3 linked regions of the Homo sapiens genome follow. The protein of the gene in region 2 interacts with the protein of the main gene of each other region in a pairwise test. Each region holds a gene or a part of one and is shown on either strand. Other genes may lie near its edges.

Evidence for each region.
Region 1: the proteins of MAPKBP1 (region 2) and KPRP interact in binary tests that used the Homo sapiens proteins (3 or more experiments, as listed by UniProt).
Region 3: the proteins of MAPKBP1 (region 2) and KRTAP9-2 interact in binary tests that used the Homo sapiens proteins (3 or more experiments, as listed by UniProt).

What each region holds. Positions count from the first base shown.
Region 1 is NC_000001.11:152,756,333-152,760,082, reverse strand, and holds the start of KPRP (keratinocyte proline-rich protein), read right to left. Parts: upstream 2,059-3,750; 5' UTR 2,024-2,058; intron 1,343-2,023; exon of another isoform or gene 1,272-1,342; intron 523-1,271; 5' UTR 495-522; coding exon 1-494.
Region 2 is NC_000015.10:41,819,470-41,823,219, reverse strand, and holds part of MAPKBP1 (mitogen-activated protein kinase-binding protein 1), read right to left. Parts: intron 3,626-3,750; coding exon 3,570-3,625; intron 2,389-3,569; coding exon 2,152-2,388; intron 1,637-2,151; coding exon 1,470-1,636; intron 1,256-1,469; coding exon 1,110-1,255; intron 996-1,109; coding exon 798-995; intron 628-797; coding exon 543-627; intron 282-542; coding exon 1-281. UniProt on the Homo sapiens protein: Negative regulator of NOD2 function. It down-regulates NOD2-induced processes such as activation of NF-kappa-B signaling, IL8 secretion and antibacterial response. Involved in JNK signaling pathway.
Region 3 is NC_000017.11:41,224,812-41,228,152, reverse strand, and holds KRTAP9-2 (keratin-associated protein 9-2), read right to left. Parts: upstream 1,506-3,341; 5' UTR 1,499-1,505; coding exon 974-1,498; 3' UTR 501-973; downstream 1-500. UniProt on the Homo sapiens protein: In the hair cortex, hair keratin intermediate filaments are embedded in an interfilamentous matrix, consisting of hair keratin-associated proteins (KRTAP), which are essential for the formation of a rigid and resistant hair shaft through their extensive disulfide bond cross-linking with abundant cysteine residues of hair keratins.

The sequences.
Region 1 (3,750 bases), on a different chromosome or scaffold from region 2:
TACATCTGGACAGGCTGAGGAGCTGGACAGGGTACATAGTTCTGGACTGGGCATTCTACATAACAAGTTTCTGTATAACAAACTGGAGCACATTCTACGAAGCAAGTCTGAACAGGTTGTGACGCTTCGCACTGCACGTAGGACACCTCAGATTGGCATGGAGCCTGGCTTTGAACAGAGGAAGTTTGAGATTGGGATGCAGCCTGGCCCTTCACCTGGGTGGTCTTAGACTGACATTGAGCCTGGCCCTTCACCTGCTTGGTCTTAGACTGGCACTTCACCTGTGTGGTCTGAGACTGGCATGGAGCCTGGTCTGACACCTGGCAAACTTGAACTGGGCATGATGCAGGGCAGTCCACAATTTGCATCTCACAAGGGGCTTGAACCACCACTTGGCTCTGGGCAAAGGGGGATTGAGAGGAGCAGAAGGAGGGACCCTTGACGCAGCACTGTTGGAGCGGCAGGCGGCACTGGATCTGCTGCTGGTCACACATGGTCCTGATGCAGCCAGTCAAGAGTGACCTGAGGGCAAAGAGACCAGGGTCAGGAGGGTGAGAGTTGGAGAGGGGGTGCCAGGACCTAGAGGAAGACACCCTGCATCTTCCCTAGCTTTTCTTCCTCCACCCTCAACTTTCATCCAAGTGTCCTGACTTAGTTCGACCCAGGATTAATCTGTTAGACCTGCCCTGGGTCTGTCAAAGGGCACATCCAGGGTTGCAGATGTCCAGGATCTCCCTGGGGGTGGACCTACCAATGCCCAGAAAAGAGGGCACTGATGACAAAAGGATTCTCCTTTCGTCTCCACACTTTCTCACATCCAATGTGGTCTGAGCAGCCCTACAGGAAGTAGAGATAACAACTTGCTCCTAAGGCTATAGCCCAAAGTGGAAACTCCATTCCCACAGGAGCTTGGATTTACTCACACATGTGCACTGGCAGTACACATAAATGTGCAAACATGTAAGAACGTACATATGAGAATAAGCACTCAGCACCATCTGCATTCACAAAATGTCAAAGCATTCACTGGAAAGCGGGCAGCTCAAACCCAACATTAAATGTTTGTTTCTCTATATTCAATGTTTTTAGATAAATTCATTTAAACATGATACAATGTTTTGAAATAAATTCATTTAAACATGACACAATGTTTTGAAATAAATTCATTTAAACATGACACGTGCAAAGTGTGCCCATGCAAAACACACCAGCCTTGGAAAGACTCTGACCACCATGGCAACTTGCCCAGTCAGGTTGCTGTTGCTAATCACCTGAAGTGTGACAGTCTGCAGGCCTCAGAAATGTTTTTCCCCAGCTCTTCTTAGAGGCAAGGTGGAGTTACCTAAGATGGAGTAAGCCAGAAAGTCCAAGGTTCTTAATCAGAAGACGGACATTCTGCCATACTTAAAGATCTACGCAGCTGGGGCATTGCAAACATAACGTGAGGGCTGCAGGCATACACCCTGACACCATGCTTAGCTGGGGAGAGCACAGGGCAGCCTCACTCGTCTGCTTGTGTCAGATGCACGTGTTTATGTGCAGGCAGCCCACTGACCAGCAAAACAAGATCATTTGACAACAGGCTCATCCAACAAACCGTCTTTCAATAAGCTCCCCAAATGCTCCTGATGAGGGTTCAAACCTTCTATTTTCAATTTGTAGAGAATACCTACATATCTATTTCCCTGGGGAAGGTAACCCTTCCACACACAACTTTGCTCATAAGGTGTAAATTGCTAATGTGGCTTTTCCAGAAAGATCATGAGGGAAAATAGTACCTGAGGATAAGGTCAGGGTTATCAAAGGCAAATACACTAGCTTCACAGCCCTAGCTCATCTCGTAAACTCTGTAGCTATGCTTCTGTCTCCTAAAAGCTCACCAGACTTTTCTCCTCAGGTTAATGCACCCCTCGCCCTCCCTGGTGCCTAGCTTCTCCCTTCTTTGTGCCTCACGACTGTGAACCTGGGCTCTCCCCTGAACATCACATCCACCCCGATCCCAGGATCCAGTTCCTAGACTCACCCTCCTCACAGGCAAGCAGTCCTTCAGGCTGAGGCATCTGGGAAGAGGGCTGTCTTTATATAAAGGGTTCTGGGTCTGGCTTGGGCCATGAGACAGCTGGTTGGCATCCGCCTGGTGCATCAACCGGGCTGGCATTCCAGCAGCTGGTTCCCTCCCTGTGTGCCTGCCCTTGCCGTCACCTACAGAGTGTGGGAGTGGCTTGTCTTAGTGTTGAAGCCTCAGGACTATGAATAGCAGATTCTTATTTTCTTCCTCCTTCATTGCCCTAACAGTTTCTCCTCCATCCCTAGAAGACCTGATGGTCGGGAGATGAGGAGTGACAAAGGTATCTTCTCTCCTAAAAGATGATTGTATCTGCCAACTTCCACTTTGCTTCAGATTCTTACCAGAGTGACATAAAAGAGGAAGTGTTTTCTAACCTGAAGTAATTTAAGTTACTTCAAAGATAGAGGCAACTCTATAGAAGGATGAGCCCATGGGGCCAAAGGTGAGTCTAACATCCCAGGCCGTGTACTTATAGCTATGCAACCTTTATAAACAATCTGAGTATCAAATTACTCTTCTGCAAAAGAGAGATAATTAAATCTTCCTTCCTGATTGTTGTGAGGATTAAGGCAAAAAACCAAACACCGCGTGTTCTCACTCATAGGTGGGAATTGAACAATGAGAACACACGGACACAGGAAGGGGAACATCACACACTGGGGACGGTTGTGGGGTGGGGGGAGGGGGGAGGGATAGCATTAGGAGATATACTTAATGCTAAATGACGAGTTAATGGGTGCAGCACACCAACATGGCACGTGTATACATATGTAACAAACCTGCACGTTGTGCATATGTACCCTAAAACTTAAAGTATAATAAAAAAAAATTCATCCAAGAATGATGTTTAAACTATCCCAAATCCACTCAGGGTAAATGCTGGCCATAAGCCACAGGCACTGCTGAGTCATGGGTGCCTGCTGCCTCCCCATCCTGAGCTGAGCAAGTGGATGCCTGCACAACAGGTGCTCAGTCAATGCTGCAGAGCAGTATTTGAAGGCAGCACCAGGCAGGTAGTGCTGTGGAGTAGCCCTTAAAGGCAGCACAGTGCAGGGCAGAAATAATAATCTGGTACTCTGTGAGCCACATAGAGTCAAAATGGACAGCTCTTTATGTTTTCCCTCATAATACTGTCATTAATTGTTAGTATTTAAAAATAGGCAGATTTTATTAAAGATTCCAGAAATTCAGATTTTCTTCTGAAATAAAAAGATCTAGCATAGTTGAACATACCTTCCATTATCCTGATTAGCAGCTGCCCACCTTAGATAGGGCATTGCTATAGTTTGCGTGTTTATCCCTTCCAAACCTCATGCTGAAATTTGACCCCCAGTGTTGGAGATGGAGCCTAATAGCAGAAGTTTGGGTTATGGGGGAGGATACCTCATGAATAGATTAATGCCCTCTCTGGTAGGGGTGGAGGTTAAGGTCTCTCTCTATTTGTTCCTGCAAGAGCTGGTTGTTAAAAAGAGCCTGGCACCTCCCTCACCCCTCTCGTGCTTCTTCTCTCTTCATGTGATGTCTGCACAGCCTGCTCCCCTTCACTTTCTACCATGAGTGGAGGTGGCCTGAGTCCCTCACTAGAAGCCGATGCTGATGCCATGCTTCTTGTTCAGCCTACAGAAATGTGAGCCCAATAAGCCTCTTTTTTTTTTCTTTTCTAAATTATCCGGCCTCACATA
Region 2 (3,750 bases):
GTGGCACCAGACTGTGCACAGACTGGGCCTTCTGGAGTCCAGAAAAGGGGCTGGCTGTGGCCACTCTCTTGGGAGCCCAGCTGCTGTCAGGGTTGAGACGGCATCGTGGCAACAGCACAGAGGCTGCCTGCTGGGGGCTGGGGTTGCCAGAGGACGGTTCCACCTCCGGGGGTGCTCCAGGGGGATTGGCACCATTGCCTCTCGGCTGCTCACCAGATGCCTGTGGCACCTGGGCTGGTCTCGACATCAGTGCCAGGCTTGAGGAGGATGGGGATGGTTCCCTACAGGGAGAACATGTGGGAGAAGGCCCAGAGAAGGCTCAATGCTCCTCCCTGCCAAAATGGCGAGAAACTCATAGCACCAGGGCACTAGGAGAGAACAAGCACAAAGCCAGATAGGGCTGGGGAAAGGCCAGTTAGCCCAAAACTGGGAGTGCAAAACACCCCGCGCATGGAGAGACAGAACACTGGAGAGGAGAGGGCAGCAGCCCTGGGAGGCGAGGAGAGCCAGAGCTGCTGCTGGGGGGTAGGGGGCCTCTGTACCTGAGTGGGCGGGTCTGTACTTGCAACAGGAATCGTGAAGAGATACTCCGAGACTCTGACCTCTCTGGGACCTGCACTGGGGCCCCTACCAAGGTCAGAGAAATCATGAATTGGGGCAAAAACCAAGCCCTTGCCCCAGATTTTGCCTCCTTGAGACCCCCAGCCACAGCCTATACCCTGGGACCCTCCTCTCAGGTAGGCAAGGAGGGGAGAAGGGCAAATTGCAGGCACTAAATGCTGGCCCTCTGACCACACCTGGAGCAGCTCCACTGGCCAGAGTCTCAAAGTGCTGTTTTAGAAACTGCTCCTGGTCTGGAGTCTGGGGGCTGCCCTCCTGTAGCCCATAGGGGCCCATGCCTCCCTCCTCTTCTTCCTCTTCTTCATCACCCTCAGCTGGCTCTTCAAGGTCTGAGGAGATGCCATCCACACTGAGGGGCTCCGTGCTCTCAGAGTCTGGGTGTGGGGAGGGGAGAGAGGCATCGCACTGCACCCATCTGTTGCCAGAGCCTCCCCACCCACCTCCAGGCCCCACCCCCCATGGCCCCTCCCTCCAGGCTACAGCCTCACCTTCAGTGGGGTGCTCCGGGCTGGAAAGGCAGCTGCTGCTGTAATCCACAGAGCAGGCACTGTCAGGGCTGTGCTTTTCTGAGCTCCTGCTGCCTGGGTACACTCTTCCCAGAGTTCCCCGGGCTGGAGCCTGCACTTGGAACTCACTGTCAGGATTCCAGCAGGGAGAAGAAAAGGCAGTGAGCAGGGGTAGGCAGCAGCCCCGCTGGACTCCTGCCTGTGATCAGGGTGAGGGATGAGGCAGTGGTGAGCTGGAAGGAAAGCCCTGAGTATCCTGGGGGCCAACCCTCCCTCGACTAAAGAACACTCATAGGGAGGGGAAGACGGGGGCACGGGGTCTGGCTAGGGCAGGATCCTTGCCTGGTATCCATGGTGGGGTTGTCACTCGGCTCCGGGTAGACAATACCATCTTCAATGGGTGCAGGTTCCAGATCTTGGGCAAAGACCCCTTCCTCTTGTGACAATAATCGGATAATATGGGGATAGGAACAAGGTTGGGAAGCCTGAGGCCGAGGGGGCTTTTCATTCTGGGAACACACAAAGGGATGTTAACAGAGCAGAGGTGACAGATGAGGCAGTGGTAGCTGGGGGGTAAGCCCTGAGTATCCTGGGGGCCAACCCTCCCCTTGGAGAAGAGGTGGAGGTGAGTAAGGATGCGGTGTGCACTCATTCAAGGGGAAGCTGAAGGACAGACATCGAGAAGCCAGGCTGGGCTCCAGTTGCTGATGTGAGCTTCTGGATGAACTATATTAGCACTCTGGGCTGCCAACCTCCAGCTACCACTTAATACCAAGAGTCCTCCAAGAAACCCAGCCCAGGGCAAAGGCCACTTTTGCCTCTCTACCCCAACCCCTCCCCTGCCTATCCTGATGACCAAACCATACAGCCCAGCCACCCCCATCCTGGCTTTGCAGTTCAGGTTACCCATGTGCCACAGGGGCAGAGCAAGCATAGCTGGACCAGTGCTCAGGTCCCAGCTGGTGGCAAAGGCTGCCTAAGGCCCCTTGGAACTCTCTAGAGAGCTGGGAGAAAGCAGGCTCACCTGGCTAGTGAGTGAAGTCTCAAGGGCCTCCTGCCCATGCTTCCTGGGACCAGATGGGATGATGGCCAGCGAGTCCTGGCTAGGGTCCTGCAGGCTTGGGGCCAGTGTTTCCAGCTGCCGCAGATCCAGCATGGATCTAACGCTCAGTTCCACACCTGGCTGAACCCAGCGCCCTCTTCTTCTGGGTCCTGGGTTGGCTGCAGGAGCTGGGTCCAGGAACCCCACGGACTCCTGTGCCTGGTGGGAGGTAGGGGGTGGGGGAGGAGTAACAACAACCACACAGTAAGATCAACAAATATCCACATATCCCTTACTATGTGCCTGGCACACTACACATACTAGCTTACTTCATCCTCACAGCAACCTTTTGAAATGGGCACTAGTATAATCCTTGTTTTACAGATGAGGAGACTGAAGCACAGGGGGCTTAAGTGAGCAGTCTGCGTCCCACAGACAGTAAGTGGCCTGCAGATTAGTCTGGCTCCAGAGTTCATGCTCTTAGCTGCATTCCGCATCCTCTGGCACAGGAACCCCTAGTCTCAGCCTTCACCTGGTATCATGGATGCCTCAGAGCTGGGGGTCTCTAAAAGTCTCCTACTCTGAGGACAGCCCCAGCAGCAACCACTTACTACCAAGAGTCCCCCAAGAAATCCAGCCCAGGGCAAAGGCCACTTCTGCCTGTCTACCCCAACCACTCCTTTTGCCTCTCTACCCCAATCACTCCAATAGCTGGGGGCCCCAAAGTCCCCTCACAGCACCAAGGACAAACCTATAGCCCAGGCCTGAGACCCCTGGCCCGGTCAGGGTGCTCCAGAGACACCACAGCATCATCACTCTGTGAAACTGTTGCTGACAACGGAAGGTACTGGTGCTTGGGAACTTGCTCTGAACACCTTGATCCCCCTTTGGCCACCCCAGGGCAGTCGCTGAGTTATGGGTCCCCTCATGGCCTTTTCCCTCTAACTATTCTGGAAGTTCTCCGCTTACCTCCTAACCGGGATCTTTAGAACTGTTTCTCCAGATCTCCGCTCTTTGGATCCTTGATTTCCTGCATTTTAGTTCTAACTATCTGGCTTAGGGGTCCTTTGTCCTCTCCACCTTGAGCTCTTCTCTGATGATATTTACTTCCAGGCACCAGGCAGCTGAACAAGTGCCCCACCTCCCCAGTGCTGACTAACCCTGTGCTCCATCCACCCCAACTGGTCCACAGGAAGGAAATACCTGGGCTTTCTTCACCCCCGCACCCAGGACCAGCCCAGCTGCTTCAACTTCCCCGACAAGGCCTTCCTTGGACACACGAGTGCAGCATGTGGGCAGACCCCATGCCCCAGTACCCTACCAGGCCCAGAGAGCCCTGTTCTCACAGCTCCCTTTGCCTCCTCTAACCTTGGAAGAACATTTTAACAATGGCGACTCACCCGACTCATCTCCCAGTGGGACAGGCTTCGGGGCAAAGCTGGGCTGGGGACCGAGGCTAGACAGAAACAGGCAGTCAGAGGAAGTGTCTCCTGCCCCCCCCCCGCCACCCAACCCTGGAGCCCTGGCCCCATCAGCCCATACCCTGTGTGGCCACAGTGATGCCTCAGTTTCCTCAGCTCA
Region 3 (3,341 bases), on a different chromosome or scaffold from region 2:
CTCAAGCATCTTTTTGATGCGGATGAATTGAATGATTGGCTGGTCAGAGGCTGAGACAAAAAGATCCCTGCATTCAGGGCAGCCATTAAATGCAATCCCTGCTGCCATGTCATGCAGCTGTTGCTCACTGAGGTGTGGGAAAAAATAATTTGGGATTTTTTTGTGAATAAAAATATTATTTGCAAATATGAGAGATTATTTCTCTCATTGTTAAATAAACTCAAGTGCATGTCTTGCTAGTGCTGACTTCCAATGTCATTTCTACTATGTTGAGAGTTAAATGTAAGTGTCCTTGGGCAGAAAGAGAGGACCTCAGCTTGGATCAGAATCTGTCCTTTATTAGCTACATAACATCACATATTAATTTTTTTTCAGGTGAAAAATGAAGGTAATAATGCATGACCACCTGTTTTGAGAATCAAATTGGATAATAACTATGGTATGTGATATGTGTGTAAATCCCATATCAGGAGTGCTTTCAAATAAAACAAAACACTATATGAGATGAGGATGGTTCAGAATTTATTCAGAAACATATAGGTAAGGATTTCTGCTACCAGGGACACAACACAAATTTATCATGAAAAGAAGAAAGAAGGATACAAGAACGATGAGGAGGATATTGAAAACAAAAAAAAGATTGCAAAGATCATCGATCAGTTGCAGAAACCTAAATTCCTTAGAAGCAGGGAATGAAGCTCTTGACTTTAGAGTCAAAGCTGAGACCATGACTCAAACTTGAGAACAGATGAAGCTGGCACATGATCCACAAGGTGTAAGGAAAAAGAGAATCAGGATGAAGTATTCTGCCCTCCCTCAAGCAGATTTCCAAGATTTTAAACATGTAGAGAATTCATAAAAATTTGGGTGAGAGCATGGTGGCTGTCAGCAGCAAATTAAATTAGTCCCCCAAAAGATGAGTCAGTTGAGCAGAAATTTGTTGTGTGAGGATGGTGGTTCTCTTGGAACGTGATCAGCAGCAAGAAGGCTGGCAGCAGCTGGACACACAGGTGGGCTGGAAGCAAGTGGTCCTGCAGCAGGTGGTCTCACAGCAGGCTGGGCGGCAGCAGGGCTGGCAGCAGTTGGAGCCACAGCTCTGGTTTAGGCAACCAGGCAGGCAGACAGTCGTGGGGTAGTAGCAGGTTCTTCTGCAGTACACAGGTGCACAGGAGCTGCTCTGGCCACAGCTGGACCCACAGCTGGTTTGGCCACAGCAGCTGGACCCACAGCAGGTGGGCTGGCAGCAGGGTGTGCTGCAGCAGGAAGGCTGGCAGCAGCTGGTCACACAGGTGGGCTGGCAGCAGGTGGTCCTACAGCAGGTGTTTTGACAGCAAGTTGGGCGGCAGCAAGGCTGGCAGCAGCTGGACACACAGCAGGCGGGCTGGCAGCAGGGTGTGCTGCTGCAGGTGGTCACAGTGGTGGGCTTCCAGCAGGTGGTCCTGCAGCAGGTGGTCCTGCAGCAGGTAGGCTGACAGCAAGGGGAGCAACAGTGGGTCATGGTGTCAGGGGTGGAGGGTGGGCTTCTGTTCAGAGGTGAGTTTCCCAGAATCTGATGACCCCTTGCAATCTGGACCTTTTATACATCTGGCCTCCAAAGTTTCCACCAATCAGCAGGACTTTTCCTTGTTGTTGTTTACACTGTTTTCCATACTCCCTTTGCGATTGTCAAAGGGGAAGTTGTTTCTGAAATCTTATGAATCTTTTGAAAGTAAGGGTTTAATCTGTTTCTTAATTGAGAATTACTCATAAAAACTTTGTTTCAGATAAAAGGAAGGCAGTCTCATCACCAGCATCATTCCTGCTCTGACCATCATCTGGTCATGTGATAGTTCCTGGTGATCCGGGAAGCAGATAGTTCTCTCTGTCCAGCCTCATGGTTGACTGTATGTAGACTGGGAAATGTCTGTGGGCAGTCGCGTGATGCTGTTATGTTCACAGTGATGCATTGAATCCGTGCCCGGCACCAAGCCTATTTACCCACAAAAGTCTGATTCAAGAGTAACAAGCATCTTTCTCGCTACAAACTATTCCACCTGTGTCTTCCAGTTCTATTACACTCACTAGGGAAAGGGTGTTTGGCACAATGTATTCCAAAATGCAGAGCTAGACCAAAGCAGGTGGGTAGAAAAAGGAGTCCACTGGGATTCAGAAAGCATCGAGTGTCTCTGTGATGGTGTTGCCATTTACCCTGATTTGCCTGGGACTGAAGGGTTTACCAGCATGGGACTCTCTGTGACGTAAGTGCTCTAGATTCGGGCAAATCAAGCTGAGTTCTGGTCCTAGCTTGTTAATTCTAATACTTTTTGTATTTTTTTTTGGTGTGACAGAAAATTGCACATGTGCAGTCATGACTCATAAAAAATAGTAATAGTTTTCTTCGCTTTATAAGAGTATTTTTAATCTTGCTTTTTTTTTGGCCCTTGTCCAGGGGTAGACCCTCCAGGGCAATGTCTAATAGAATGGTGTAGTGTATATCTTTTTATATTCGTTGGATAGAAAGGAGAACTCTCAGTATTTCACAATTAATTACGATGCTTTCTGTCTTTTTTGTAGATTCATTTCATCATAGCAACAGGTCTTGTTCTATTCCTTATTTTCTGAGAGACAGAAAACTGAAAATGTACTGAAATTTACAAAATGCTTTTTCTTTATAAGCTGAAATAATGTTATGATTATTCTACCTTTTCAGTAAGTGTTGTTTTATTCTATGTTTTTTGAGACAGAGTCTTGCTTCGTCACCCAGGCTGGAGTGCAGTGGTACAATCTTGGCTCACTGCAATCTCCACCTCCCGGGTTCAAGAGATTCTCTTGCCTCAGCCTCCTGAGTAGCTGGGACTATGGGAGCACACCACCATGCCCAGCTAACTTTTGTATTTTTAATAGAGACAGAGTTTCACCATGTTGGCCAGCTGATCGCAAACTCCTGACCTCAAGAGATCCACCTGCCTCGGCTTCCCAAAATGTGTTATTTTAAAAGTTGATTAATGTTCAAATATTAGCCCAGTCTTGCATTTCTGAAAACAATTCATGTGGTTACGATCATATGTATATGCCATTGGATTTTATTTACTTATATTTTGTTTAGGATATTTACTATCATTGCATTCCAAAAATATATTCTCCTATTCTTACTCTATTTCCTCTACCTTCTCTAAGTAAAGAAATTCCGAATATAGCAAAATTCCTACCCTTCTGTGCCCAATTTGACCTTGATGTGACCCCCTGTATTGGTTTTTCTAAAGGCAATTTCATGCCCCATGAAATACTCTAGCAGTTCTATTGCAGAGTGTGGGCTTGGGGATCAACAGTTCTTTTTTCAACAGGGGCACTAGACTATCCCA